2 linked regions of the Homo sapiens genome follow. The protein of the gene in region 2 interacts with the protein of the main gene of each other region in a pairwise test. Each region holds a gene or a part of one and is shown on either strand. Other genes may lie near its edges. The genes, in order: MCMBP and ASL.

The links.
Region 1: the proteins of ASL (region 2) and MCMBP interact in binary tests that used the Homo sapiens proteins (3 or more experiments, as listed by UniProt).

Annotation. Positions count from the first base shown.
Region 1 is NC_000010.11:119,837,580-119,853,096, forward strand, and holds part of MCMBP (mini-chromosome maintenance complex-binding protein), read right to left. Parts: coding exon 15,471-15,517; intron 11,998-15,470; coding exon 11,846-11,997; intron 10,135-11,845; coding exon 10,034-10,134; intron 5,848-10,033; coding exon 5,675-5,847; coding exon of another isoform or gene 5,669-5,674; intron 5,017-5,668; coding exon 4,893-5,016; intron 3,382-4,892; coding exon 3,264-3,381; intron 1,122-3,263; coding exon 956-1,121; intron 1-955. UniProt on the Homo sapiens protein: Associated component of the MCM complex that acts as a regulator of DNA replication.
Region 2 is NC_000007.14:66,070,717-66,086,233, reverse strand, and holds the start of ASL (argininosuccinate lyase), read right to left. Parts: upstream 10,416-15,517; 5' UTR 10,378-10,415; exon of another isoform or gene 10,196-10,377; 5' UTR 10,153-10,195; coding exon 10,141-10,152; intron 4,432-10,140; coding exon 4,237-4,431; intron 3,867-4,236; coding exon 3,783-3,866; intron 3,355-3,782; coding exon 3,298-3,354; intron 3,158-3,297; coding exon 3,060-3,157; intron 1-3,059.

The sequences.
Region 1 (15,517 bases), on a different chromosome or scaffold from region 2:
TCAGACATTCTCTGAAAACCATTTACAAACTTTACAACGGGAGGTTAAAACATAATTAGCCAGGCGTGATGGCGGGTGCCTGTAGTCCCAGCTACTCGGGAGGCTGAGGCAGGAGAATGGTGTGAACCCGGGAGTTGGAGGTTGCAGTGAGCCAAGATTGGCCACTGCACTCCAGCCTGGGCGACAGAGCAAGACTCCGTCTCAAAACAAAAAAAAAATTATATTAGATCTTTTCTACACTTCCCTTTTGAGGTATTAGATGACTAAAGGCAAAGCTTCCTCCCATTTCAGCTTTTTAAAAAGCTATTTGGGGCAGGTGCAGTGGCTCACACCTGTAATCCCAGCACTGTGGGAGGCCAAGGCAGGAGGATCACTTGAGCCCAGGAATTCAAGATCAGCTGGGCAACATAGCGAGACCCTGTCTCTACCATTCCTTACACTCACTGAAAAAAAAATTTTAGGTTATATACAACTACGCAAAAGAACCCAACACTGTAGGCCCATAAAGACTGCTCCAACCATTCGCTGACACAATAAAACTTTTCACCAAAGAACCCTTACGACCCTCAACATCTAATACTACCCTTTATATTACTGCTCCATTATACTAATACTACCCTTTATATTATTGCTCCATTATATAATATATAAAATATATAATATATGATATATATTAAATGAGACATTATATATTATATATGATATATATTATATAAGATATATTATATAAGATATATATCTGTTCCATTGTACTACTTTCAGAATACTATGGCAAAACATAGTTGGTGTATATAATTAGTTTATAACATATGCTTTAATCAAATTCATATGCCAAGCCTTTATCTTACGTTGTTAAATGTGAATTTGTCCATAGATACTCTTCTAAAAGTTATTCCTAGATCTGGCTTTAGTGCGAAGGAAGTCAGAAATGGAAGAGAAACATCTATGTACGTACCTGGGGTATCCAGCTGCCCCTGTTCCAGGAGAGTCTCATCGATTACAAGGGAAGTATTGCTGGGCAGCTGGAGGAGCCCACTGACCAAGCGATTGGCTGTGTAGTCTTTGTGGGGAATGAATTTCAAATGGTTCATGTTCTCTATAGTCATCTGCAGACGAAAAGACTGCAAAGAGAAATTTTTTAGTGAACAAGAATTTAAGTTTCCCTGTTTTAAGAAAATATGTACTTGGAATTAAACATTGTGTTTCATATGGAAAAAGTGATCTTATAAATTTCTAAGGGAGTAGTGATATGGTTTCTTGAACTCCAGAAGCAAAAATAGTATCTAGATCTTACATTTGAATTTCATCCATTTTATGAGCTACTTTATTCTCAAATGTCTTGTTCAATATTCTTGAAAATCAATTTTAATTTAACCAATGAAACAAATGGTAGATAACTGACATATAAATATTAAATACCCCAAAACCTAACCTCTTTCACCTAACACAAGCTAGCTAGCAAAAAGAAAATGTTAATTTTACTCTTCAAGACAGGGAGAGAAAAGCTTAATTTTCCTCTATATTCTTTGAGTTAAAATTGTATTCATTTATCATAGACATTTTTGAACAAACTTTTCAGAGAAAAATCAAGGAGCAGAGCACACTGAGCTGTGGATGGACCTGCAGCTCTCAGGAGGTGCCTCCAGGACGCGAGCACCTTCTCACTCAGTGTTTAACGAGTAAGCGAACCATCTATGCTCCTCCTCCAGCTCTTGAGCCACCATTCCCAACACCCTCTGTGCTCTGCCTTATACACCAATCCATTCTTCCATCCCTCCAGCCTCAAACAATGTGGCAGGGATGGAGAAGAGGGTATGGTGGGGGAAGGCTGTCAAGGAAGAGGTAAGATATATTGCGAAAATTTAGAGGAGTTTTGTGTATTACCTCAGTGATTCTAAGAAAACGGGGAGCTTAGGGGTGCTTAAATGACCTACCATGTATTAATTTATTTGTTGGTCTTCTACCTAAACTCTGTGAGGGCAAAGGATCTGTTTCAATAATTCTCAAAATGTGGTCCCGAGAACCCCCAGGGAATTGCTTAAACCCTTTTACAGGGTCAATCAGGTCAAAATCATGCATGGATAAAAGATCCTTTCAATGTGCGAGACTAATGAATTTTACCATAGCAGACTATGGAAAGTTTACGAATAGGATTTCAGATTCCACACTTAACTATCTTTAAGAAAATCTCATGTGGACAGTTTTGGTCTAGTATCAAAGACCACCACCCAGTTATCTGCAAAGGCTATCGAAACCATCCTTCCTTTACCATCTACTTTTCCATCTGTGTGAGGCCAGCTTTCCTTCATATACTTCAACCAAAACCTGAGACTACAATAGACTGAAGGCAGAAGCAGATACAAGCATCCATTGTCTCCTATTAATCCAGACATTGAAGAGATTTGCAAGAATGTAAAACAATGTCACCTTTATCACTAATCATTTTTGGCTTGGGAAAAGTTGTTTTTATAAAAATATTTATATGTAATTTTTTATTTTTAATAGGTGTATTTACTTTATCTTCTAGTTTGGTAAATTAATGATAAATATAATCATAACGTGAAAAACAGCTCTTTGAGTATGAACACATTTTTCAGAGTGTAAAGTGAGTCTAAGGAGACTGAGAACTGCTGGTATATTCCAGTCCACTTCTGCTTCTTGAGGGCCTGGACGAGTGTTAGCACTGAGACACTGAATACATTCGGTTCAATAAAGATCTAGTGCACCCTCTTCAATTTCCAAAGAAGTGATCAGTATTTTCAGTCACACAACTAATCAGAAGCAATTCCCCTGTTCCCAAGATCCTACCACCACGCAAATACTGCATTCCAGATACCCTGGCAAATAAAGTGAGCTCAACTTTCCAAACAGGAATTAAAATTGAGGCAATGGAGATAAAGAACTTTATTACCTCAACTAAAAGAATTATGCTCCTACAATTTAGAGTTTATTTAGATTTAAGACTTTAGTGTACAAAAAGGATACCAAATTGGACAAATTGGTATCAAGAGAGTGTAATTTTAAGGGAGTTACTACAATTGTTTTGTTAGACTTACAGAAATTTGTGCTTAGGCAAAAAGACAAAAAAAAGTGAAATGTTTAGGGGAACGTACATTTTAAATTATGTAATTTGGCAGGCTTTGTTTCCCCTTAAATAAGATCTATTAAAATCTCTAAGTTAAATATTTGAAGTGAATGAAAGACAGTTAGATGGATTTTTTAAGTGTGCTTAGGTTTATAATACATATTTATATTCATCTTACTGCTGGAACAAGATGTTGAATAATTCGATACAAGTGTTCTGTGAAGGTACTATTCCGTGGGCAACCACTCAAGTTAACTGTAAATTTTCCTAGTGGAAGGACATCTCTTCTTGTATATCTAGAAAAGAAAGAAATCAATCAATAAGATGCTGAAGTGACTTCCTGATTTCTATCAAATAGCGAAGAATAGAAAAATTAGCTTAATATTGTCATTAAAAATAAACCAGAATATTCTGACCAGTTATTTTATCAGAATAACAGCAATAAAAGTAATAGCCAATATTTGTACGTAAGTGCTGCTGGTCACGTGCCAAAGACCGTTCTGAGTATGTAAATGCTTCCTCATTTAACCCCTAACCATTCAGCGGTAGGTGCTGTTGTCTTTGCTTCACAGATGAGAAATCCGAGGCACAGAGATGATAATAAGCAACATGTTCATCTAAATGGAAGCTGACAGAGCTGGGATATGAATCCGGGTAGTTTGGTTCCAGAGCCTGTGCTCTCAACCATTATGTACTACTGTCACAGACTGATTTGAGAAAAGATAAGATTTACAGCACAAAGATGTTTCCTGCAACTTTATAATAGAGAAAAGCTAGGAAAAGCTAACATTTAGGGAAATGGTTACAGTATGGTACAACTGCATAGTGAAATACTTTGCAGCCACTACAAAGTTCATGAAGCATTATGATGGGAAAATGTTTAATATATATCAACTGCTGAAAACAAGACACGCATCTGTGCTTAGAGTGTAACTAAGACCTATGCAAGGATGTATACATATGTAAACAAAAACCAATGAACATGTACCTAAAGGTTAACGGAGGTTCTAAGTGGTGAAATTACAGATGATGTGCATTTTCCTCCTTATGTTCTTGGAACTTGTCAAAGGCCCACACTAGTTTTAAAATGAGAAACAAAGAAATACAGTGGAGTCAAGGGATGCGGTGCTAGTGTCAATGTCCACGTTAAACGTGCACATGACGTGGGCGCCTTGGGATGTATAAACAGAGCGTTCAGAATGCAAAAGGGATAAAACAGCTCATTTTACTCATCAGCCAGGTCCTTTATCTCAGGGGTCCCCAACGCCCAGGCCGTGGACCAGTACTGGTTCATGGCCTGTTAGGAACCGGGCCACAACATAGGAGGTGAGGGGTGGATGAGTGGGCATTACCGCCTGAGTTCCGCCTCCTGTCAGATCAGCAGTGGCATCAGACTCTCACAGGAGCGCGAACCCTATTGTGAACTGCACATCTGTGTGTTCCCTATGAGAATCTAACTAATGCCTGATGTTCTGAGGTGGAACGGTTTCATACTGAAACCATCCCCACTCCGGTCCATGGAAAAATGGTCTTCCATGAAATGGGTCCTTGGTGCCTAAAAGGTTGGGGACCACTGCTTTATCTGATTTTGGCTCTAAAATTTAAGGGGACATAATCAAAATGCTAAATGTGAACTGTGAGAAAAGGAATTTGTCTGTGATTTGGTATAACAGTTAACACTGGACAGATAAAAACCATGTGATGAAGCCCAATAAGGAAAACACACAAATGACACCAGCAATCTTCCCGCTCTTCCACTTCCACACACACCAAACTCCCCTAATTCCCACCAGGATACAGCACTTACACTGTGGAGATGAGATGTAATATAAGGTATTCAGCAGCCAAACTATCCCCCAGAAGGGCATGAGTAAGGAACCCAAGAAGTTCTGCTCTGACTGGAGACAATTCGGACATGAAACTTGAAACAACTGAAGGAGAAAGGAAGACCTGAGTCAGGACACACACTCCAGTTCCTCTCAAGTGTCTTAGGTAAAAAAATAACTACGTGAGCAAAGCACAATTCAGTCGACAGTAGGTAAAGCTTAACATATCCGTCAGTAAGTGATGCTAATCTTAAAAATAAGGCAGTTTGCATCCTCCTTTTTTTTTTTTTTGAGACCAAGTTTTGCTCTTTTTGCCTAGCCTGGAGTGCAATGGTGCCATCTCAGCTCACCGCAACCTCTGCCTCCAGTTCTCCTGCCTCAGCCTCCCGAGTAGCTGGGATTACAGGCACACGCCACCACACCTGGCTAATTTTGTATTTTTAGTAGAGCCAGGGTTTCACTATATTGGCCAGGCTAGTCTCGAACTCCTGACCTCAGGTGATCCACCCACCTTGGCCTCCTAAAGTGCTAAGATTACAGGCGTGAGCCACTGCACCCAGCCTTGTATACTCTTTTGTCCTCATTTCAGTGAAGAGAATTAATGTAAGAGAAAAATGGGGCAACGAGAGAGAGATTACTGAAAACACTTATTGTGAGGAATGAAGACCTGACTCTCAATTCCACTATGAGCACGTTACAGGCAGCTCTGGACACACTGAGGCTAACAGTCGATAGTTGACTAGGCTGTAACACTTACACTTACAGGTTTTGCTCTCCTCTTTGTTAAGGCAGGCAGGCAATAATGGGTTGATGTGTTGCAACTTCTGGGCTAAGATCACATGAATTCTCGGCACTAATGAAGCAGGAGGACTGTGTACTCTCTGCTCCTCTGCTGTGTCTGTGCACTCCATCGGATCCAGCAGTGCAGAGGCATCCCTGTGGAGAGGTGATAAAGTTTCAATTTAGAGAGACATCAATTGCACAGATGCAAAAATAATGTGCATCTTGGAAAACAAAATTAGAGTTAAAGCCAAGAATATTTCCACCTGTACATCTCCTTAAAGAACAGAAAGTGGCCTCTCATTCTAAAGTGTTACATCACACAGACTTCAGGCTTGTTAAGACATATCATGAAATAATGCATTTATTCAATTTTTCAAGAACGGTATTTTTATTTTTATTTTTTTTTTGGATGGAGTCTCACTGTGTTGCCCAGGCTGGAGTGCAGTGATGCGATCTTGGCTCATTGCAACCTCTGCCTCCTGGGTTCAAGCGATTCTCATGCCTCAGCCTCCTGAGTAGCTGAGATTACAGGTGCACACCACCATGCCTGGCTAATTTTTGTATTTTTAGTAGAGACAGGGTTTCACTATGTTGGCCAGGCTGGTCTCGAACTCCTGACCTCAAGTGATCTGCCTGCCTTGGCCTCTCAAAGTGCTGGGATTACAGGCGTGAGCCACCATGCCTGGCCAGAAACAATAATATTTGTTATTCAGCACTTCAATAAATGGAATGTAGGATGTCACTCATAAGGCTATTTCAAAACACAGGTACTCCTTGAACTATTGGCCGGGACATCGAATACTTGACAGCAGATCTCAAAAACTGGGGTCTTTTTCTCAAAAGCCATCTGGTATCTATTATTCAGCGTGTGGAGAATCCATTCATCTCTTATCTTGCTAATTGTTTTTCCTAAATTTAATTCTTACATGATCCCTCGAAGACTGAGTAGACAAGCAATGAAAGTATGAATTTTTCAGACTTGCTAAATAAATCTGCAGATGATAGATTTGTGAGACGACCAAAACAAATAGCTAATCTTTTAGATCTTGACTTTATAGAATCTATAGACACTGAAGTAATAAATTCATACTCCTGTATTTTTTAATACAAGCATAATAACCTTTTCCATAGTACGTACCATGTGACAGACAACGTTCAATGCCTTACACGTACAAATTCACCAAAACCTCACATCTACCCTTATTTACAATGAGGAAACCAAGCCCAAGGTGACATAGCTAGTAAGTGGCCAAGTCAGGACTCCAACCCAGGCTGCCTGCCTGTCTGTGCTCTTAACCTCTGTGATGGTTAATACTTTGTCAATCTGACTGGATTGAAGGATGAAAATTATTGTTCCTGGATGTGTCTGTGAGGGTGTTGCCAAAGGAGATTAACATTTGAGTCAGCGGGCTGGGAGAGGCAGACCCACCCTCAGTCTGGGTGGGCAGCATCTAATCAGCTGCCAGCATAAAGGCAGGCATGTAAAGAGCAGACTGGCTGAGTCTTCCGCCTCCACCTTTCTCTCATGCTGGATGCTTCCTGCCCTCAAACATCAGACTCCAAGTTCTTCAGCTTTTGGACTCTTGGACCTACACCAGTGGTTCACCAGGAGCTCTTAGGCCTTCAGCCACGGACTGAAGCCTACACTGGTGGCTTCCCTACTTTTGAGATTTTGGGACTCAGGCTGGCTTCCTTGCTCCCCAGCCTATTGTGGGATTTTACCTTGTGATCATGTGAGTCATTCTCCTAATAAACTCCCCTTCATATATTCATCTATCCTATCAGTTCTGACCCTTTAGAGACCCCTAATACAACCTCTAAACTAAACTACATCAATAGTGAAGTAACTAAAGCAGGAAAGTCATCACAATCAGAAATTGCCAAGATGAACAATCTCATATACTATTATTAAGGGACGGTTAAGCTTATTTAAAGTTGTTTAAAATTTTTGTTTTGTACCATTTTTTTTTAACTGTGAAAAATGTTAAGTTCATCCTACACAGAAACTAAGATGATTAATGTCCGGTATTCAACAAGAGGACTCTGGTGTAGATGAGGGACATCAGCCCTTGCTTTTGGCAATCTCAAAACAAAACAAAAATGAATGAGGAAGGTCTAGATTTCCAAGATATGTTGTTAATAAAAAAAATTAAAAAGTGTAAGAGTATATATACCATGTTACCTTTTATAGAAGAAAAAGGTAGAAATAAAATGTATACGTATCTTCATATTTTTGTAAAAAAATAAATACAGGAAGGATAAACCAGAAACTGTGGTTCCCTAAGGAGGCTGGGTGGGAACAGACAGCAGGAATGGGGATAGCCGAGAATGACACCTCTGAGAATCTTTCTAAGTAAAATAAATAATGAAATCACACTGAAGGGGAAGAAAAGTTACCTGAGTAAGTGGAACATAGCTCTGACTACACAGCTGCATTCTAAAATAAAAATGAACTGGAAATGTATTGAACTCTAATTACTAGGTTTCTGTTTTGTAGTGGTATGGGTTACCAATTCTGAAATTCCCTTCTGTATATGGTAGAAATGGGGAAACAACAGATTGTGAATAATGGGAATCAAATTTGTTAGAAAAAGAAGTCATAAATATAGAAAGGAGAACAACTAGAACATGTGACTCCTGCTGTGCTGAACTGGAATCAGAAATATGAACCCATGGTTTTTCACAGACATTAGAAATACACAAAACATGCATGTGAGTGTGTATGTGTGCATTTAAATGTGGGTGCGTATATATGTATCCATATGCTGCATGTATCCTAGCTCTGTCTACTTTAAGGGCCTAGATGCAAATCTAATCCAGTACCAACGAGCACATCTAGGACTCAGATCTTCAAAGCATACGATGAAGCTGCAACAGCTTAATATGCCAGAAAATAAATGTTAAAAAATGATAACATCATCTCAAAAAAAGGACCCGGCACCTGCTTAAAGTGGCTCCCACTAGCCAAATCTGGGAAAATTTGGGTCTCGAAATAAAATAATGATATTAACATTGAATAAAATCAGAATCTATTAGTCTATACTAAATATAAGTAAATACATTACTTGAATAAACAAATGGAAGAGGTATCTTTTATAGTAGAATGCCAATAAATAAATGTACTGCGTTAGAAAATTGCCAACAAAGTAATAACTGATTCAAGCAAGAATCATCAATGAATGCTAAAATAAATTGGTGAAAGTTTAATGAGAAACTGGATATTTATGTCCCCAAGTACCTTCCTCCAAGTTACTTGTCAATTACAAAGTGAGAAATGTAACTTTACAGAAGAGACATCTGGAAGTCACCACCTTAACCAACTAATGAAAATTAACCTCACCAGTAAAGGGACAAACTGACATCGCATGCCTCCTGCTGTAACATACTGAGGATACATCAATTCTGTAATATTCCTGCCAAAAATGCAAAACATTGAGTCTAACCATGAGGAAACAAGTAACTGGTAACTGGCTTACACTCTTCAAAAGCATCAAGGCTGTCTGCTCTCTACCACGTGAGAAGACAGCCATCTGTAAACCAGGAAGCGGGCCCTCACTAGAAACCAGATCTGCTGGGAACTTGATTTTGGACTTCCCAGCCTCCAGAACTACTGGAAGACATATATTTCTGTTGTTTAAGGAAAAAAAAAAAGTGGCAAGACCATGAAAGACAAAGGCTGAGGACTGTTTCAGATTGAACTCTAGTTATTTAGGTTTATGTTTTGTAAAGGTATGAGTTAACAATTCTGAAATTCCCTTCTCTATGTTGTAAAAATGTGCAAATGATAAGATTGTGAAAAATGGGAATCAAGTTTAAGAGAGTTACACTAATACAGAAAGGAGAACAAGCAGAACGACACCTGTGGTGCTGAACTGGAATCAGAAATACAGTATGAACTCAGTAGAAATAGAGAATGAGCGAGCTTCTGAACCCTGGACTGGGGGATGCAGAAGGGAGACGTGTAAGAAAGAACATGATTAAGACAATTAGTGAAATTAAGTATAGATTGTGGATTAGTGTATTGTATATTTGTGGCAAATTTCCTAGTTTTGATACCTGTACTCTAATTATATATGAGAAAGTCAGTACTCTTAGGAAATGTTGACAAGCAGTTAGGGGTAAAAGGGCTTGATTTCTGCAACATACTTTCAAGTGTTTCAGAAAAATGTGTGCATAGAGAGCACAAATGAATGACAAAACACATGGGGTGCAAGTGTTTACAACTGGTACATCTGGGAGAAAGGGAAAAGGGAGTTCTTTAAAACCATCCTGTAACTCTCCTGAAAACTTGAAATTATATAAAAATAAAGGAGACCAAAAAAAGAGCACACAGACTCACCTTTCATCATTATTCAGTATACTCAGCACAGGATCCACAGACAGTATGCCATATAGCTCAAGAATGTCATTTACTTTGAAACAATCCCAATCTTCATAAACCTAACAAGAGACCACATGAAATCACACTGTTAGAACAGACACAAAGCTTAAGATATTAGTCTTGAAGTACCAATATCTTGGAATTTTAGATCAGGAAACAGACCTTAAAGCAAGTCCTTTATTTTATAAATTTTTATAAATTGAGACCAAGAGTCATTCTGCTAGTTAGCAAATAAGTGAAAAACCAAAACACAGGATGCCTAACTTCCAGACTAATGTCTGTTTTCAATATACCACAGTACTACAAAAAAAAAAGGCTTTTCCTAAAATTAAAAAAAGCCTTTTCCCAAAGGCTGACAGTTAAAACTAGAACTGTGCACTATCTCAAAACCTATTAAACCACACCAAGAAAAGGAAAAAACAAAAACAAGATGATTAACTTTGCATTTATTCATAAACTGCAACATCGGATTAACACAAAACTTGGAATGGCCAGAAGATTTTTCACAATTTAAAAAAAAAAAAAAACCTTTCAAAATTGTCTGTCATGATGGACTTAGTAATAGTCAAGGCCATTTACTGATTAGACCTGGTAGAAGCAAGGCAGGGGAAAAAATGGTAATTTTGGTCCCTGTGCCATATGACTTAAGTGTCATTTCAGTTAAAACCACTGAGAATCTGGGTGCAGTGGCTCACCCCTGGAATCCCAGAACTTTGGGAGGCTGAGGTGGGTGGGTCACTTGAGGTCAGGAGTTCGAGACCAGCCTGGCCAACATAGTGAAACCCCATCTCTACAAAAAATATAAAGAACGAGCTGGGTGTGGTGGTGCATGCCTGTAATCTCAGCTACTCAGGAGGCTGAGGCACGAGAATTGCCTGAACCCAGGAGGTAGAAGTTGCAGTGAGCCGAGATCGTGCCACTGCACACCAGCCTGGACAAGAGAGTGAGACTGCCTCAAAAAAACAAACAAAAAAACCCCCCAAAAACAAAAAAACCCAAAATGCACAAAGAATAAGGATAGAAATCCTTAACAATCATTTCTGAACCTTCTATCACTTGCTCATTTATCAGGATCAAAACACTAGAATAAGTAAGATGGAAGAACAAACTATTAAAAGTTTTCTTCCTTCTGTTTTATTTTAAATATAAGTGAAAAATAGGTTTTGCTGAGAGAAGGAAGAAGACAAAAATGAAGAAGATATTATGTTAGAAATGATACAGGAAGGGAACAGACATAATTTAAAAGTTGTTCTGCTTCTGCATTTGAGATGTTCTTCGATTCTTTTAACTTGTTAGCTTACATGCAAAAGGAATGTGCAGGTGTGATTAAATTAATAACCTTGAAATGGGGGGGATTATCCTCGATTAACTGGCTGGGCCCCATGTAATCACACGGATTCTTAAAATTGGGGAAACTTTCTTGGTTGTGGTCAGATGAGATGTCAACATGAAAAAAATGGTCAGACAAATGCAATGTTGCTGGCTATGAATATGGAAGAAGGAGCCACAAGGCCAAGGAAATTCTCCCTTAGGGGCTCCGAGAAAGGAATGTAGCCCTGCTGGCACCTCGAGTTTACCCCAGTGAGACCATGTTGGATTTCTGACCTAAAGCCTGTAAGATGATAAACTTTTGCTGCTTTAGGCTATTAAATTTGCAGTGATTTGCTATAGCTAGCCCAGCACAAGGGAACAAATGCAAATGCTCAGACACTAAGCTACTTTCTGAGACACATAACATTTCAGTGTTGGATCTACGAAAGGTTTTATTACCTTCACAAGGCATGCAGGGCCCTTCTCTCCTGGCAATGGAAAATTCAAATCAAAAGGAGAAGACAAGTTCAGAGAGTTCAGCTGTTGCCCAGTAGAAGCTTCAGTTTCTAAACGTTTTGGCTCTCCACACCATTGAAGACCACCAACACTCCCTAAATTCAAAGGATAGCATTGCACTTAGTCATTTCTAAGGCCTCCTGGAGAAAAAGAACATTCCATAAGTGCCTTTCAAGTTTGATATACGTGATGCTTCTGAGCTTGCAAAGTTCAAGTTGTTACAGTTTTTAAGGAAACAGCACATACTAACAAAGTCTTTTGTTTGATCTGTAAGAGGACAAAGATAAACATGAAGATCTAAAAATTTTACTTTTTTTTCCCTTACTGTAAGATATCAACAAATTCCTCCCATCAAATCTCATGTATAACCAGTTTCAAAAGTTGATTTGCAATATGGTTACTTTGACATCTTTGATTTAAGGAATACATGGTCTACCGACAGCAAAACTCCTTGGTAGAACATACTTTTTCTATTAATTAAGCAGAATAAAACCATACAGCAATAAATTAATTTACCAAATACTTATTAATATCCAGTATGTACCAGGAATCAAACCAGTTGTTGGGGATATACAGGTCATTAAAAGAATAACCCCAACTCCTGAAGTAGTTACACTTTAGGGCTGATAACATGAGAATCAAATTATAGCCTGCCATACCACGAAACACCACTCAGCAATAAAACGGACAAACTACTGATACATGCAACAATTGGGATGGATCTCAAGGGAATTGTGCTGAAGAAAAGACAATCCCCAAAGTTTATGTAATATACAATTCCATTCTTAAAATGACAAAATTATAAGAGATGGAGAAGAGACCAGTGGTTGCTAGGGTCTAGAGACTTCTGGGGACGGAGGAGGCAGGAGAGTGGTAGTTAGGAGCATAAAAGGGCAACATGAGAGATCTGGGTAATGAAATATTCCCGATTTTAACTGTGGTGGTGGTCACATGAATCTACCTATGCGATAAAACTGCAAAGAACAGGCCAGGTGCAGTGGCTCAAGCCTGTAATCCCAGCACTTTGGGAGGCTGAGGCAGGTGGATCACGAGGTCAGGAGATTGAGACCATCCTGGCTAACACGGTGAAACCCCGTCTCTACTAAAAATACAAAAAATTAGCCAGGCGTGGTGATGGGGGCCTGTAGTCCCAGCTACTCGGGAGGCTGAGGCAGGAGAATGGCGTGAACCCAGGAGGCGGAGCTTGCAGTGAGCAGAGATTGCACCACTGCACTCCAGTCTGGGTGACAGAGCAAGACTCCGTCTAAAAAAAAAAAAAAAAAGGAAAAAAAATGATTGTATCAATATCCACTTCCTGGTTATGACATTCTACTATAATTACGTAAGGTATTACCACTGGGGGAAGTAGAGGCTAAAAGGTATACAAGATCTGTTTTTTTTTTTTTTTTTTGAGACAGAGTCTCACCCTGTCACCCAGGCTGGAGCATGGTGGCGATCAGCGCTCACTGCAACCTTCGCCTCCCGGGTTCAAGCAATTCTCCTGCCTCAGTCTCCCAAGTAGCTGGGATTACAGGCGTGCACCACCATGCCCAGCTAATTTTTGTATTTTTAGTAGAGATGGGGTTTCACCATGTTTGCCAGACTGGAACTCCTGACCTCAAGTGATGTGCCTGCCTCGGCCTCCTGAAGGGCTGGGATTATAGGTGTGAGCCACCGCAACCAGCCTCTCTGTATTATTTCTTACAACTGCATGTAAGTCTATACTGTGTCAAAATAAAAAGTTTAAAAATATGTATAGCCTAAAACATTGACTAAACACCAACAAGTGTTACTTTATATAAATAAAGTACTCAAATGCATAAAAAGCCTGCATTAAGACATTCAAACAAGAATGGTAAGAAATAAAAAGTAGCATCAACTGCTTAAGTGATAAGAGAATTAACATATTTCCTGGACTTAAATACACACTCGAATATATTACAATATATAAGTTACTATGATATTTATTTGAGATGGAGTCTCTCTGTCACTCTGGCTGGAGTGCAATGGCATGATCTCAGCTCACTGCAACCTCCGCCCCTCTGGGTTCAAGTGATTCTACTGCCTTAGCCTCCCAAACAGCTGGGATTACAGGCGCCTGCCACCATGCCTGGCTAATTTTTGTATTTTTAGTAGAGATGGGGTTTCGCCATGCTGTCCAGGCTAGATGATAGACCATTAATTTTAATATATTCTGGGGATCGGTGGAGAAAAAGAATACTACGACATTTATATGTATTTATAGTAAAACATTCCAATTTTAAACACATTAAAATATATCTTAGCATTAAGAAAATCTGGAAATATCAATTTATAAAGTAGAGTAATATAAGGGTAAATAAAATTCATTAGTAAATCCCTGTTTACCACTGACTGTTAAATTTGCCTTGGCCAGGCACAGTGGCTCATGCCTGTAATCCCAGAACTTTGGGAGGCCGAGGCAAGTGGATCATCTGATGTCGGGAGCTCAAGACCAGCCTGACCAACATGGAGAAACCCCGTCTCTACTAAAAATACAAAATTAGCCAGGCGTGGTGGCGCATGCCTGTAATTCCAGCTACTCAGGAGGCTGAGGCAGGAGAATTGCTTGAACCCAAGAGGTGGAGCTTGCAGTGAGCCAAGATCGTGCCACTGCAATCCAGCCACTGCAACAAGAGCGAAACTCTGTCTCAAAAAAAAAAAAAAAAAAAAAAAAAAAAGCCTTCTCTACCCAATCTTGCAGATAGTAAATGACCAGACTGATTTGTTTTGCCTCCTTGTCCTTTAATTTTTCCTTCTGATTAAAGGTGCTGAAGGGAAGTGGATAGCACATACTCGAATATATTACAAACTCGAATATATTACAAATATAAAGACAAACTTATATACCCACCATAACAAAGAAATCCACTGCTTATAAAAGCTAAGACTGGTTGGGCGTGGTGGCTCGCGCCTGTTATGCCAATGGCTTTGGGAGGCTGATATAGAAGGATCACCTGAGCCCAGGAGTTTGAGACCAGCCTGGGCAACATAGTGAGATCCCATCTCTACACAAAATTTAAAAAGTTAGCTGCATGTGGTGGCATGCGCCTATAGCCTTAGCTACTAGGCAGGTTGAAGTGACAGGGGATCACTTGAGCCCAGGAGGTCAAGGCTACAATAAGCCATGATTATGCCACTGCACTCTAGCCTGGGTGATGGGAGTGAAACCCTGTCTCAAAACACAAACAAACAAGAAAATTAAAAAGAAAATGAGAAAGCATGTTTTCAGATAAAAATAACTCATTTTTAGGGTAAAGTACCAGGCTTCTGTATTAAAAATAAATATGAAGATAGAAAAGACCTTTCCAGATAGTCACTTGAGACTCCAAACACATACATCAGAGCAGCCACTTGTCACAAAGTGATGCCTAATTGCTCATTTGCGAAGCACAGTCTCATCAGAGTACTGTAAAAACTCTCAACATGTCTGTAACTCTGATAAATTGCCAGCTCCTAAATATAGAGCTATATTATGTAACAATTCACTCTGAAAACCAATCTACTGTAAGAGAGCAAAGTCTAGAGAAAACCTGTTGGCACACACTACCTGCTTGTCTGGCACCTGCATGTTGGTCTTTCTGCTTATTGGGCTGT
Region 2 (15,517 bases):
GGACCCTAGAAATAGCTGGGGCTCATTCAAGGGCTGCTCTGAGCAGGTGAGATGCCCTGCACCTCATTCAAGTAGGCAGGGCAGAGGCAGAGGTGCTGTGAGTGATGGTCCTGTTTTCTTGTTGTTTTGTTTTGTTTTTATTTTTAGAGACAAGGTCTCGTTCTGTTGCCCAGACTGGAGTGCAGTGGCATGATCATAGCTCACTGCTGCCTCGATCTCCTGGGCTCAAGCGATCCTCCTGTCTCAGCCTCCTGAGTAGCTGGGACTAAAGGGACATGCCACCATGCCCAGCTAATTTTTAGTTTTTTGTAAAGATGGGGTCTTGTGGCCAGGCGCGGTAACTCACGCCTGTAATCCCAGCACTTTGGGAGGCCGAGGCGGGCAGATCACAAGGTCAGGAGATCGAGACCATCCTGGCTAACACGGTGAAACCCCATCTATACTAAAAATACAAAAAATTAGCCGGGCGTAGTGGTGGGCGCCTGTAGTTCCAGCTACTCAGGAGGGCTGAGGCAGGAGAATGGCATGAACCCAGGAGGCAGAGCTTGCAGTGAGTTGAGATTGCACCATTGCACTTCAGCCTGGGCGACAGAGCGAGACTCCGTCTCAAAAAAAAAAAAAAAGATGGGGTCTTGCTATGTTGCCCAGAGTGGTCTGAAACTCCTGGTTTCAGGCAGTCCTCCTGCCTTGGCCTCCCAAAGGGCTGGGATTACAGATATGAGCCACCATACCTGGCCTGTTTTTTTGTTGTTGTTGTTTTTGAGAAAGAGTTTCGCTCTTGTTGCCCAGGCTGGAATGCAGTGGCGTGATCTCGGCTCACTACAACCTCCACCTCCCAGGTCCAAGAGATTCTCCTGCCTCCCAAGTAGCTGGGACTACAGGTGCCCACCATCACACCCAGCTAATTTTGTGTATTTTTAGTAGAGATGGGGTTTCACCATGTTGGCCAGGCTGGTCTCGAACTCTTGACCTCAGGTGATTCACCCGCCTCAGCCTTCCAAAGTGCTGGGATTACAGGCGTGAGCCACAGCACCTGGCCTGTTGTTTTAAATAAACCAGCTTTACTGAGATATCATTCACAATTTACTCATTTAAAGTTTACACTTTACTGTACAACCATCACCACAACCAATTTTAGAACATTTTCATCACCCCATGAAGAAATTCTGTACTCAAGGCCAGGCACGGTGGCTCAAGTCTTTAATCCCAGCACTTTGGGAGGCCAAGAGGGAAGGATCACTTAAGGCCGGGAGTTTGAGACCAGCCTGAGCCACATAGTGAGACCCTGTTTCTACAAAAAATTTAAAGAATTCGCGGCTGGGCACGGTGGCTCACACCTGTAATCCCAGCACTTTGAGAGTCCGAGGTGGGTGGATCATGAGGTCGGGAGATTGAGACCATCCTGGCTAACATGGTGAAACCCCGTCTCTACTAAAAATACAAAAAATTAGCCGGGCGTGGTGGTGGGCACCTGTACTCCCAGCTACTCGGGAGGCTGAGGCAGGAGAATGGCGTGAACCTGGGAGGCAGAGGTTGCAGTGAGTGGAGATCACGCCACTGCACTCCAGCCTGGGCAACAGAGCAAGACTCTGTCTCACAGGTGGTGCACACCTGTGGTCCTAGCTACTCAGAAAGCTGAGGTGGGAGGATCATTTGAGTCCAGGAGTTTGAGACTGCAGTGAGCTATTACCAAGCCATTGCACTCCAGCCTAGGTGACAGAGCAGGATCTCATCTCTAAAGACAATTTAAAAAGTTAAAAATTTAAAAATTAAGCTGAGCGCAGTGGCTTATGGGTGTAATCCTAGCACTTTGGCAGGCCGACGCGGGCAGATCACCTGAGCTCAGGAGTTCAAGACCAGCCTGGTCAACATGGCAAAACCCATCTCTACTGAAAAAAATACAAAAATTAGCTGGACATGGTGGTGCACACCTGTAATCTCAGCTACTTGGGAGGCTGAGGCACTAGAATCACTTGAACCCAGGAGGCAGAGTTTGCAGTTAGCTCAGATAGCGCCACTACACTCCAGACTAGGTGACAGAGCAAAACCCTGTCTCAAAAAAAAAAAAACAACAACAAACAACAACAACAAAAAATTAAAGAAACCCTGAACTCAGTAGCAGACACTCCCTGTTCCTCCTAGCAGCCCCACACCACCTGCTGGGTGACAATTCTTGTGCCCTTGTTTTCCCCCAAGTCTGCACAACAGGGGTCACAGGGAGTTGAGGAAGAGGAGGGGTCTCTGACAACACATGGAGACTTCTCAGCAGCTCTTCGTCCAGGTCTGCAAGGAACAAATCCAGTCCCAAAGACACCAGGTCCCAGAAGCCAAAGCCTGAAATGAGGCCAGCAGGAGGCAGCCTTTGGCTCTGTCTTTTGCCAGATGGGCTGGATGGGGAGGCGAAGCTTAGGATGGGGGATCTGGGGGACAGGCAGTGTGGGGAGTGACTCTGGCTGCTCCAGGCACAGCCAAGCTAGCTGTGCTTGGCTTAGCTTCCTGCCTTCAAATCTGCAAATGGTGAGTTTTCTTTTTTTTTTTTCTTTTTTTTTGAGACAGGAGTCTCGCTCTGTAGCCCAGGCTGGAGTGCAATGGCGCGATCTCGGCTCATTGCAACCTCCTCCTCCCGGGTTCAAGCAGTTCTTCTGCCTCAGGCTCCCGAGTAGCTGGGATTACAGGCGCACACCACCACATTGCCTAATTTTTGTATTTTTAGTAGAGACAGAGTTTTCCCATGTTGGCCAGGCTGGTCTCGAACTCCTGACCTCAGGTGATCCACCCACCTCGGCCTCCCAAAGTGCTGAGATTACAGGCGTGAGCCACCGCACCCAGCCCCACGAAGGGTTAGTCTTCTCTGCCTGCTGAGCTAGACTGGCATGGGAGTATTGGGGCCTGCAGGAAATGGCCCACTCCTGGCTGCTCTGCCTCGATCCTGGAGTTCTGGGATGCCCCTGTCCCCCAGGGCCTGGCACCCCCACGCTGTTCACCCCTGCCCCCTAGGTCTCCTGTTCAGGCTTCCATCACACCTCTGTCTGCCCCCTGGGTGTCCCTGTAGGACTCACGCCTCTGCCCGATCCACCATGGTCCTAATGAGCTCCCAGAGGAGGCCCGAGAGCGTGGAGCAGGTCTGCCGCATCCACAGCCTGAGGTCTGTGACCACCTGTGCAAGGAGGAGATGGTGCTCAGGGAGGCCGATGTGTTGCTTCCCTGAGGAGCCAGGACCGCTGCAGAACTCTAACTGCCCCCTGGGCTCCTCAAGGTTGGGACAACACGGAGCAGGGGGTGGAGGGGCTAAAGCACCTGGTCATTCCGGCTCCGTCCCGTGTGCAGCTTCCCTGCCGTTGCACCAATGAGCTCCTGGAGGTGAAGGGAGACCCAGGGTCACGGTCTATACCCCCAGAGGAGTCAACCCAGGCAGGGCAGTTTTCCTCATCAGCCCTGCCAACCTACCTCCATACCCCAGGGCTCCGGGTCCTCCCCAAATCTCTCGCCATTTCTGCTGAGGCCTGTTCTTTTTTTCTTTTCTTTTTTTAATTTTTGTAGCTGTGGGACCTCATTATGTTGCCCAGGCTGGTCTCGAACTCCTGGTCTCAAGCAATCCTCCCACCTCAGCCTCCCAAAGTGCTAGGATTATAGGCATGAGCCAGGGTGCCTGGCTCATGTCCTGAGGTCTCACATGCTGTCTGCCAATGGCGAAGTAAACAGAATGGTGCTAATGCTCAAAGTGGCCCTGGGCAAGGTGGAGAGGGGAGGCAAGGAAAGCGGTGGGGCTCCAGGGGTCGTACCTTCAGGCGGCGCTCATTGGCTGTGTGGATGTCCTCATCATTGGAGTTCAGTTTGAAGGTGCCCTGGGCCCACTCCTCAGCCACCTGTAGTGGGTAGCAGCAATGCCGGGGTCAGGTGAGCAGGCATCAGCAGCCAAGAGAGCCCCTGCCTTGGTCCCACCCTATCCCTGGTGACTGACTGTCCCTGCCCAGGAGCTGAGTCCTGGAAGCGCACCCTGGGAGGGGGCATCTCAGGCCCAGCACACCTTTACCCATGAGCCATGTGGGCCACAGGGGTCATTAAAGGATGGAGAGAGGCAGTCATCAAGGCACACAGTTAAACAGCACTTGAGTATATAATTAGTTCAATGTGAAACCACAGATGGGCAACACTGCACTGTTTGCTCAGGGATTTGGTGGGAGCCTGGGGCCACAGGGAAGGGGCCTTGGGTGGGGCTTGGGCCACGGCAAGTACCTTGTCTAGGCCATGGAGTATCTGGTCCATCTCGGCCTTGGTGAGGAGCCCTGCCTTCTCCAGGCCCCTGCTGTAGGCTTTGCTGCCTTGAACATCCACCTCCCAAAGGTGCCGGTCGTAGGCAATGGACGCGTTGAACTTCTCCATGATGGGGTCCACTGCACCCACAAACCGGCCACCCCAAAGCTTCCCACTCTGGCCAGGAGAGCAAGAACAATTAGTCTCTCCTCCACCCTCCAGAACAGTGCTTCTTGCAAAGAGTCTTTGGGAAACTTATCAAGTCTGATGGTAGCAGGGGCATCAGATCATTCTAACTGGGCAGACAAGGAGGCTGAGACCTTCCCAGAGTCACCACCCTGGGAGTGAGCATGGGAACATGGCTGAACACCAAAAGTTTGGGTTCTTTTTTTTTTTTTTTGAGACAGAGTCTCACTTTGTCGGCCAGGCTGGAGTACAGTGGTGCCATCTCAGCTCACTGCAAACTCTGCCTCCCAGGTTCAAGAGATTCTCCTGCCTCAGACTCCCAAGTAGCTGGGATTACAGGCACGTGCCACCACACCCAGCTAATTTTTGTATCATTAGTAGAGATGGGGTTTCACCATGTTGGCCAGGCTGGTCTTGAACTCCTGACCTCAGGTGATCCTCCCATCTTGGCCTCTGAAAGTGCTAGGATTACAGGCATGAGCCACTGTGTGTGGCCTTGAAGTTGGGGTTCTTTCCCACCACATGGCACCCCTCCAAGGAGATGATGGCAGGGCCTGAGACACCCCTGGGACCACAGCAGAACTTCTGGAACCTTTCCCACCACTGACCAAGGTGCTAGGTGCCATCCTAATTGTTGACACAACCCTCTGGGTAGGCACCAATACAATTCCACTATGAAGATGGGGAAACTGAGGCACAGAGCAGCCTGCTCTCACCTGGGGTGGGATAGCCAGGGCTGCGGCCCAGCAGTCTGAAGTCAGAACCTATGCTTTTCACCCCTGTTCCACCAGGGCTTCTGGACTTGGCTCTGGTGTCCAGAACCTTTGCTGCAGGGACAGGCAAAGAGGCCTTGAGGGTCTCCACCAAGCTTAAGTGCCCTGCAACTCTCTCCCTCACAGCTTGGAGCTGGACTAAGATCCCAATTCCTACCACTCCCTTGGCTCTGAAAAGCACCCTGACACCCCCCATTGTCACTGGCCTTCTAGGAGGTCACTGGGTGATCCCTTACTCCCCAGGAGCCAAGGGCAGAGGAATGGTATGTAGGCATCTATGTTTTGTTCGTTTTCTTTGAGATAGAGTCTCACTCTGTTGCCTAGGCTGGAGTGCAGTGGCGTGATCTCGGCTCACTGCAACCTCCACCTCCCGGCTTCAAGCCAATTTTCCTGCCTCAGCCTCCCGAGTAGCTGGAATTTCAGGCGTGTGCCACCACACCTGGCTGAGTTTTATATTTTTAGTAGAGACGGGGTTTCACCATGTTGGTCAGGCTGGTCTCGAACTCCTGATCTCAGGTGATCCCCTGACCTTGGCATCCCGAAGTGCTTGGGATTACAGGCATGAGCCACTGTGCCGAGCCTGTTTTGTTCATTAAAAAAATCTTTTTTAATTCTTTTTTTTTTTTTTTTTTTTTGAGATGGAGTCTCTCTTTGTCACCCAGGCTGGAGTGCAGTGGCAGGATCTTGGCTCACTGCAAGCTCCACCTCCCAGATTCACGCCATTCTCCTGCCTCAGCCTCCTGAGTAGCTGGGACTACAGGTGCCCACCACCATGCCTGGCTAATTTTTTGTATTTTTTTTTTTCAGTAGAGACGTGGTTTCACCTTGTTAGCCAGGATGGTCTTAATCTGACCTCGTGATCTGCCCACCTCGGCCTCCCAAAGTCCTGGGATTACGGGTGTGAGCCACCACACCCGGCCTTTAAATTCTTTTTTAGACACAGGGTCTCACTTTGTTACCCAGGTTGGAGTGCGGTGGCACCATCATAGCTCACTGCAGCCTCAAACTCCTGGTCTCAACCAATCCTCTTGCCTCAGCCTCCCCAATAGTTGGGACTACAAGCATGCGCCACCACACCCAGACATTTTTTTAAAATTTTATAGGACTGGGAGTGGTGGCTCATGCCTGTAATCCCAGCATTTTGGAAGGCTAAGGTGGGTGGATCATGAGGTCAGGAGACAGAGACCATCCTGGTCAACATGGTGAAACCTGGTCTCTACTAAAAATACAAAAATTAGCCAGGCGTGGTGGCACTCGCCTGTAGTTCCAGCTACTTAGGAGGCTGAGGCAGGAGAATCGCTTGAACCCGGGAGGCGGAGGTTGCAGTGAGCCAAGATCACGCCACTGCACTCCAGCCTAGGTGACAGAGCAAAACTCTGTCTCAAAATAAATAAATAAATGAACAAAATAAAATAAAATAAAATAATTGGTAGAGACAGGGTCTCACTATGTTGCCCAGGCTGGTCTTGAATTCCTGGGCTCAAGCTGTCCTCCAGCCTCAGCTTCCCAAAGTGCTGAGATTATAGGCATGAGCCTAGGCGCCAGCCACATCTATGTTTTGAAAGAGGGCAGAGGCCAGGGCATGGGACAGAGTGGGGAGGGGGTACAGAACACCTGGGGAGCAGCCCTAGTGCCCAGGACTGGGAGGAGGGTGGGGTAGAGGTGGGCATGTCACTTCACTGACGTCCTTTTTGTGGAAGGGAGTCTACAATGGCCAATGGGGACATATATCCTCCTCTGTCCCCCTACAATGCCCCAGACTTCTATTAACCACCTGGCCTGGCACCTATTATTAAACCTCAGGGGCTGGGCGTGGTGGCTCACACCTATAATCCTAGCACTTTGGGAGGCTGAGGTGGGCAGATCACGAGGTCAGGAGATGGAGACCATCCTGGCTAACATGGTGAAACTCCGTCTCTACTGAAAACACACACAAAAAAATTAGCCAGGCATGGGGGTGTTGGGCGCCTGTAGTCCCAGCTACTTGGGAGGCTGAGGCAGGAGAATGGCGTGAACCCGGGAGGCGGAGCTTGCAGTGAGCTGAGATCGTGCCACTGCACTCCAGCCTGGGCGACAGAGCAAGACTCTGTCTCAAAACAAAAACAAAAACAAAAACCCTCAGGGTTGGGAGGCCCAGGCAGGTGGATCGCTTGAGGTCAGGAGTTCGAGATCAGCCTGGCCAACATGGTGAAACCTCATCTGTACTAAAAATATAAACATTAGCCAGGCGCGGTGGCAGGAAGCTGTAGTCCCAGCCACTTGGGAGTCTGAAGCAGGAGAATCACTTGAATCCTGGAGGTAGAGGTTGCGGTGAGCAGAGATGGCGCCATTGTACTCCAGCTTGGGCGACAGAGCAAGACTCCTTCTTAAAAATAATAATAATAATAATAATAAGATAAGGATAATAATAGTACCTCTCTGATAGCCTTATTGTGAGCATTTAATCAGATAATATTTGCAAATTGCATACATAACACGGTGCCTGGTGCTCAGGAAGGACTCGAGAAATGCCAGCTGTTACTAAGGGAGGGCTGGCAGGGGATAGGACATGCTTCAGCTCCACTCCTGGTTCCTGTATGCACCCCAGAGACCTCTCCAGTGCTCTGGCCCTGAGCTGTGAGCTGACTCCTCTATGCCCAACAGTCCCGACTGCCAAAGGACTCTGCCCTGCAGAGGCAGCCTCCGCCCCCACCCCATCTTTGAGCTGGTCCTGCCCCTTACCCCACAGCTGCCCCACCAAGCCTAGATCTCCAGCAAAGCACCACGTGGGGCCCTGGTCCTGATCACTGGAGCCAGCCAGTCAGAATTGGGGCCAGCCTGCCCCTCAGCCAGGAGCCTGGCACCGCCTCCCCCAGCGGGCTCCTGGGCCACCCTGCCTAGGTTGTTAGTAATAAAAATAACTACTTAATAAGTGGAGCTGCAGCCAAACCAATTAGTGCCAACCTACAGGAAGGCCTGGGGCAACCTGAGGTCACCTAGAACACTGGGCTTGTTGGAAGCCAGACCACTCTGCTCTAGAACCAAACTCCTATCCTTACTGGCAGGCATAAGAGGACCCCACAGGGAGATCAGAGTGAGGTGCCTCCCCTTGGGCACTGAGGAGAGTGGAGGCCTAGTGTGGTAGCAGAAGGTGCTACTCCAAGCCAGGACACATCTGGGCCAGAATGGTCTCTTCAGGGCCAGGGGATGGGGCACTGAGTTGGGCTGGGTTGAATGAGCAACAGTTAAGGTCGAATGTACATGGGAAATACCAGTTTTGGTTTTGGGACTTGTGGGTTTTTTTTCTTTTTTTGAGGTGGAGTCTTGCTTTGTCGCCCAGGCTGGAGTGCAGTGGTGCGATCTCAGCTCACTGCAACCTCCGCCTCCCGAGTTCAAGCGATTCTCCTGCCTCAGCCTCCCGAATAGCTGGGACTACAGGCACCCACCACTACACCCAGCTAATTTTTGCATTTTTAGTAGAGACGGGGTTTCACCATGTTGGCCAGGCTGGTCTCAAACTCCTGACCTCAGGTGATCTGCCCACCTCGACCTCCCAAAGTGCTGGGATTACAGGTGTGAGCCACCATGCCTGCCAGGTTTTTTTATTTTTATTTTTTTGAAACTGGATCTCACTCTGTTGCCTGGGCTGGAGTGCAGTGGTGAGATCATGCTCACTGCAGTCTCAAACTCCTGGGCTCAAGCAATCCTCATGCCTCCGCCTCCTGTGAGACTACAGGTGTACGCCACCACACCTGGGTAATTTTCAAAATCTTTTTGTAGAGACAGGGTCTCATTACATTGCCCTGGCTGGTCTGGAATTCCTGGGCTTCAGCAGTCCTCCCGCCTCGGCCTCCCAAAGTAGAAATATCAGTATTGTTGTGGTTAGCCACCATTTATTGAGCACCTACTGTTGCTCAGCCCTGTGCTAGGGATTTCACATATGTTATTACGGCCTTTTATGAGGTGGGCAATATTACCCCTATTTCACAAATGAGGAAAGAGGTTTAAAGGGCTCAAGTGACTGGTACAGAAACCAAGTCTGTTTGGCTCCAAAGTCCAGGCCCTACCCCCCTGCCATGACCCAGAAGCTTGCAGGGCACTGAGCTTGCAGGGCATTGAGAAAGAGGAAGTGAATTGCTAGCTAATGAAGGCCAAAAGGGCCTGGAACCCAGACCTCCTGCTTCCCGGAGTTCCCTTCATCAAGCATCAGGCGAACAGCCCCTCTCACCTGAAGGGTCCAAAGCAATGGCCTCATAATCTAGTGCCTTACAGAGTGAGGCCGACAGCTATTATTACCCCCATTGCCAGATAAATCAACTATGGCCCAAGGAAGGAAAACCTCTGCCTGGGAATCCAGCATCTCAGTGGTCAGGAGGAGAGGCCAGGAGCCACTGACCCTAAGAGGCAGGGTCCAGTGAGACAGGAAGGGACCAGGCACCAGGGTTGCTGGAGCCACGAGGCGACGTCCCCTTTTTCCTGGCTCTTTCCACATGCCACAGTCAAGGACAAGAACACTTAGGGGCTGAGCTTTATTCTATAAACAGGGACAATTGCTCTAGCAGGAGAAGGGATGTGGTGTGGGGTGGGACCTGACAGGAGGACACGTGGTAAGAAGGAAGGAAGAGTTGGAAGGCTGAAGGCTTGGGAGCCACTTTTCCTGGCCAGGCAGGCATCACTGTGAGGTGAGGGCAGAGCCACTCTACCCCTAGTAGTGTGGGTTGGTGGGTTTGCCACAAGGGCTGCCTGCGGATACTGGTGAGTCCTGGTAAAGGTGACTGCTGGGCTCCAGATGATGCGCCCGGGAGGGCTGGGGGTGCAGGCTTCCTAGGTAATTTTCAAAATTGCTTCCTGGAGGGCGATTCCCAGCAGGGTGGCCCGAGGCAGGTCTGGCGCCCCCACTCTCTCCTTTGGAGGCTAGGAGGACCGGAGTCCCCGAGGTCCCACTCACCTCCGAGGCCATGTTGGGCGGTTCCTCGTCGTCCGGAAGCTTCGGTCCTCCGGGTCTGGAAGACAAGACCGGACTGACGACCTCCTTGGCCAGCAGGGTCCCCCGGGCCGGGCTGGCTCCGAGTTCTGGGCACTGCGCTTGAGGGAGCGCAGCCCTTGGGGACGCGGACGTGAGCGCGCGCCACGGTGCTCGGCGTCCTCCACGCCCGTCCCGCCCATCCGGCCGCCGCGCACTCACCTCCGCCTGGCCGCACGGATAGTGTCGCGCCCGCCACTGGCCAGGGCTTTTCTGGCCGGGATGGCGTCAGCAGCCGCCGGTCCTGTCCCCACCCCTGGCGACGGCCGCGCCAATAGGAGGCCGCCCGGCGGGGTGGGCGTTGCCTCCATCCTCCAATCCTGGCCGTGGGCGGGGATACCTCCCGCTGAGCTGGAGGCTAAGCGGCCCCGGGGCGGGGAAGCGGGCGGGGAAAGGGTTGGGGGGACCCCGACGGGGAAGGGGCCTGGGCTGGGGTTGAGGAGGGTAGTGCGCTGGCGTTCGTGCTGTGGTCAGCAGACACGCAGGGGACTGGAGACTCGGGCCAGGGGTAGAGGCTATGACATCAGGCCCGGGCCTGGCAGGTTCACAAGATATATAAGGTGAAATGGCATGTTCGCTCATTCACTCATTCATTCATTCATTCAACAAACACGTACCAGGCACCTCTATGTGCCAGGTACAGAGAAAGGCATCAAGGAAAAAGGAAGGACCATCAGAAATGAAGCCTGTGCCAGGCGCGGTGGCTCACAGCTGTAATCCCAGCACTTTGGGAGGCCGAGGTGGGAGGATCGCTTGAGGCTACGAGTTGGAGACCAGCCTGGGCAATACAACAAGATCCCGTCTCTACAAAAAAATTAATAATAATAAAAAAAAAGCCGGGCGTGGTGGTGCACGCCTGCAGTCCTAGCTACTCAGGAGGCTGAGGCGGGAGGAGCACTTGAGCCCAGGAGTTCGAAGCTGCAGTGAGCTATTGTGCCACGGCACTCCAGCCTGACTCCTCTAAAAAAGAAAAGAAACGCGGCCGGAGGCCGGGCGCGGTGGCTCACGCCTGTAATCCCAGCACTTTGGAAGGCCGAGGCGGGTGGATCACGAGGTCAGGAGTTTGAGACCAGCCTGGCCAAGGTGGTGAAACCCCGTCTCTACTAAGAATACAAAAATTAGCCGGGCACGGTGGCGGGTGCCTGCAATCCCAGCGACTCCGGAGGCTGAGGCAGGAGAATCTCTTGAACCCGGGAGGCGGAGATTGCAGTGAGCTGAGATGGTGCCATTGCACTCCAGCCTGGGTGACAGAGCAAGATTCTGTCTCAAAAAAAAAAAAAAAAAAAAAAAGAAAGAAAGAAAGAAAGAAAGAAAAGAAAAGAAAAAAGAAACGCAGCCGGGCACAGTGGCTTACGCCTTTAATCCCAGCACTTTGAGAGGCTGAGGCGGGCGGATCACCTGAGGTCAGGAATTCGAGATGAGCCTGGCTGACATGGTGAAACCTTGTCTCTATTAGCCGGGTGTGGTGGTGGGTGCCTGTAGTCCCAGCTACTCCGACAGCTGAGGCAGGAGAATCACTTGAACCAGGGAGGTGGAGGCTGCAGTGAGCTGAGACGGCACCACTGCACTGCAGCCTGGGCGACAGTGAGACTCTTGTCTCGAAAAAAAAAAAAAAAAAAGAAAGAAAGAAAGAAAAAGAAAAAGAGAAGAGAAAACAAAGAAAGAAACGAAACAAAAGAAATGAAGCCTGACTTCAAGAAGTTCCAACATAGCATGGAGGAGGTGTGCAGGGAGCACAGGCGTTGGGGAGGGGGGCTATGTTGGGTACTCAGGGAAGAGGTCCTTGATCTGATTAATTAATTATTCAACCAAAATGTCAGGCTGGATTCTAGGCACTGGAAGTACCCTGAAGGGGCTTCTAATGAACCTGTCTTCTGCATTGGGTCTTGGAAGATGGGGGGAATTTGCCCAGGGAAGAAGGGGAGAACATTCCAGGCAGAGGGAGAAGTCTGGACAAAAAATGTGACTGGCCTGCTTTAAGAACAGGAAATCATCCAAGTGGCTGTAACTATAACAAAAGGTAGGGAGGAGAGGTGGAAGGAGTTTGGGAGAAGGCTGTGAAGAGTCTTCAATGTCAAGAGAGGGAGTTTGTTCTTGGTCCTATAGGTCATAGGAAACCCCGATCGATTTTAAAATCAGAGGAGCCAAATTTATTTTATTTTATTTTATTTTTATTTATTTTTTTGAGATGGAGTTTCGCTCTTATTGCCCAGGCTAGAGTGCAATGGCACGGTCCCAGCTCACTGCAACCTCTGCCTCCCAGGTTCAAGCGATTCTCCTGCCTCAGCCTTCCAAGTAGCTGGGGTTACAGGCATGCACCACCACGCCTGGCTAATTTTATATTTTTAGTAGAGATGGGGTCTCTCCATGTTGGCCAGGCTGTTCTTGAACTCCTGACCTCAGGTGATCTGCCCGCCTCAGCCTCCCAAAGTGCTGGGATACAGGGGTGAGCCACTGCGCCCGGCTGAAACCCCATGTTAAAAAAGAAAGAAAGGAAGGAAGGAAGATAAATCTAGCTATAGTATTGAGGATGGAATGGAGGGAGAAGAAGAGACCAGTGGCTGGAATGTTTTGTGATTTGAAGGTGTTTAGCCCTCACTCAACTCAAGAGTGGAATTACTTGGAGTTCCCAGAATGCACCTGACTGTTTCAAGCCTTCCTAAATGCTCTTCCCTGTGCCTGGGATGCCCTTCCCTCAGTGTCGGTCTTGCCACCTCCCATTCGTCCATCAGTATTTTTTTTTTTTTTGAGACGGAGTCTCGCTCTGTCCCCCAGGCTGGAGTGCAGTGGCACAATCTCGGCTCAATGCAAGCTCCACCTCCTGGGTTCACGCCATTCTCCTGCCTCAGCCTCCTGAGTAGCTGGGACTACAGGCGCCCACCACCACGCCCAGCTAATTTTTTGTATTTTCAGTAGAGATGGGGTTTCATCGTGTTAGCCAGGATGGTCTCAATCTCCTGACCTCGTGATCCACCCGCCTTGGCCTCTGAAAGTGCTGGGATTACAGGCGTGAGCCACCGCGCCTGGCCTTGTCCATCAGTATTCTAGCCAAACATCATCAATGTCAGGTAGACTCCCAGCTGATCCAGGCATCCAACTCTGGGCTCCCATGTGATCCTGAGTATACGGGCATTTAGCAATCTTTTCCTGATTTGGGAGCACTGTAGTAGTGCCTTCTGGGCCTTCTCCACCACCCAAGTGGTGAGCTCCTTGCAAGCAAAGCCTCATCTGACACATCTGTGTGCCCTGACTCCCAGCCCTCTCCTGTCTTCTCCCACAGAAGCCCTAGAACTGGGCTGCAGCTGACCACTGGGAGGACAGGAAAGACTGTTAGATCAACTGTATGCCGTGTGGTCCTGAAAAATGCCAAAGTGGAGTGGCAAGTCCCGAGATCCAACAGCTAGTGTCTGAGGCCTGGCATCCCTTCCTGGGAGGCCTCGTGTGAAAGTCAGTGGCATTCTGCAGACGTGAGGTCGTACTTCTGAATATCCAGCAAAATACTGGGGCCAAACCCTTTGACAAATGAACTGAGGCTAGAAAGAGAGTTGGAGAAGTGGTTTGACAGCAGAGCTGTAACCACAATACCTAACATGGGTAAGTCACCAGGTGGCAGGCTCTGAGCTAAAATTCATCTCATTGCATCTTCACGACAGTTCTATTTATAGATAAAGAAAGAGAAGCTGGCTGGGATCCGTGGCTCACACCTGTAATCTCAACACTTTGGGAGGCCGAGGCAGGCAGATCACCTGAGGTCGGGAGTTTGAGACCAGCCTGACCAACATAGAGAAAGCCCATCTCTACTAAAAGTACAAAATTAGCTGGGCATAGTGGTGCATGCCTGTAATCCTAGCTACTCGGGAGGCTGAGGCAGGAGATCGCTTGAATCGGGAGGCGGAGGTTGCGGTGAGCCGAAATCGTGCCATTGCACTCTAGCCTGGGCAGCAAGAGTGAAACTCCATCTCAAAAAAAAAAAAAAAGAAAAAGAAAAGAAAAGAAACAGAAGCTGCAAAGGGTTAGGGTTAGGGGTTAGAGGACATGTACACAGGCACCCAGGTAGAAGAGGACAGTCAGTCTGGCTGTCCACAAGACAGAAGAGAGATTGTCAGTCCAGGTTTGTTTGCAACAAACAGCAAGCTTGCAAGCTTGGCATACGTGAAGGCCATGCTGTAGGGATGGGGAAGAGACTCAGGAAGAGGAGAAAGACAGGAAGGCAAGCTGGGCACGGTGGCTCATGCCTGTAGCCCCAGCTACTTGGGAGGCTGAGGCAAGAGAATCGCTTGAACCCAGGAGGTGGAGGTTGCAGTGAGCCGAGATCGTGCCACTGCACTCCAGCCTGGGGACAGAGCGAGACTTGGTCTCAAAAAAAAAAAAAGACAGGAAGGCAGCATAAAGGCTTGCAAAAAACAAAAAATCAAAAACAAATAAACAGAAAGCAGATGAGTCAAAAGTGTCTGCAGCTGAGTCCCTGACAGTTGACACTGAAATGGACGTGAGCCTTTATCTTGACAAAGCATCCTTGGCATTAAAGACTCATAGGAGGGCAGGGCGAAGTGGCTCACGCCTGTAATCCCAGCACTTTGGGAGGCTGAGGTGAACGGATCACCTGAGGTCAGGAGATTGAGACCAGCCTGGCCAACATGGTGAAACTAAGTCTCTACTAAAAACACAAAAATTAGAGTGCGGCCTGTCCTGTCCTTGCCATGAGGCTGCGGCAGGCACCAGAGTCCAGAAAGGTGTTCATTCAGCGAGACTACAGCAGTGGCACAGGCTGCCAGTTCCAGACCATGTTCTCCATGGAGCTGGAGAACCAGATTGATAGGCAGCAGTTTGAAGAAATAGTTCAAACTCTAAATAACCTTTATGCAGAAGCAGAGAAGCTTGGTGGCCAATCATATCTCGAAGGTTGTTTGGCTTGTTTAACAGCATATACCATCTTCCTATGCTTGGAAACTCATTACCAGAAGCTTCTGAAGAAAGTCTCCAAATGCATTCAAGAGCAGAATGAGAAGATCTATGTTCCACAAGGCCTTCTCCTGACAGACTCCATTGAGTAAGGACTGCGAGTTATTGAAATTACCATTTATGAAGGCAGAGGCATGAGCCATGGAAGATAAACCATAGAATTAAAGATCCTACTTCTAGCTGGGCCCCTCATGTATCCATTGGCCGACTGCAGAGTGTCTCTACCTCCTCTCCAGAGTATCATTCCTATCTGCTGCCAGAGCCACACTGCCATTTACTCCAAGGACTTTGTAAAATTCCACACCTGGAAAGACCTTTAGTTGCTCAGTATCCACTTTGT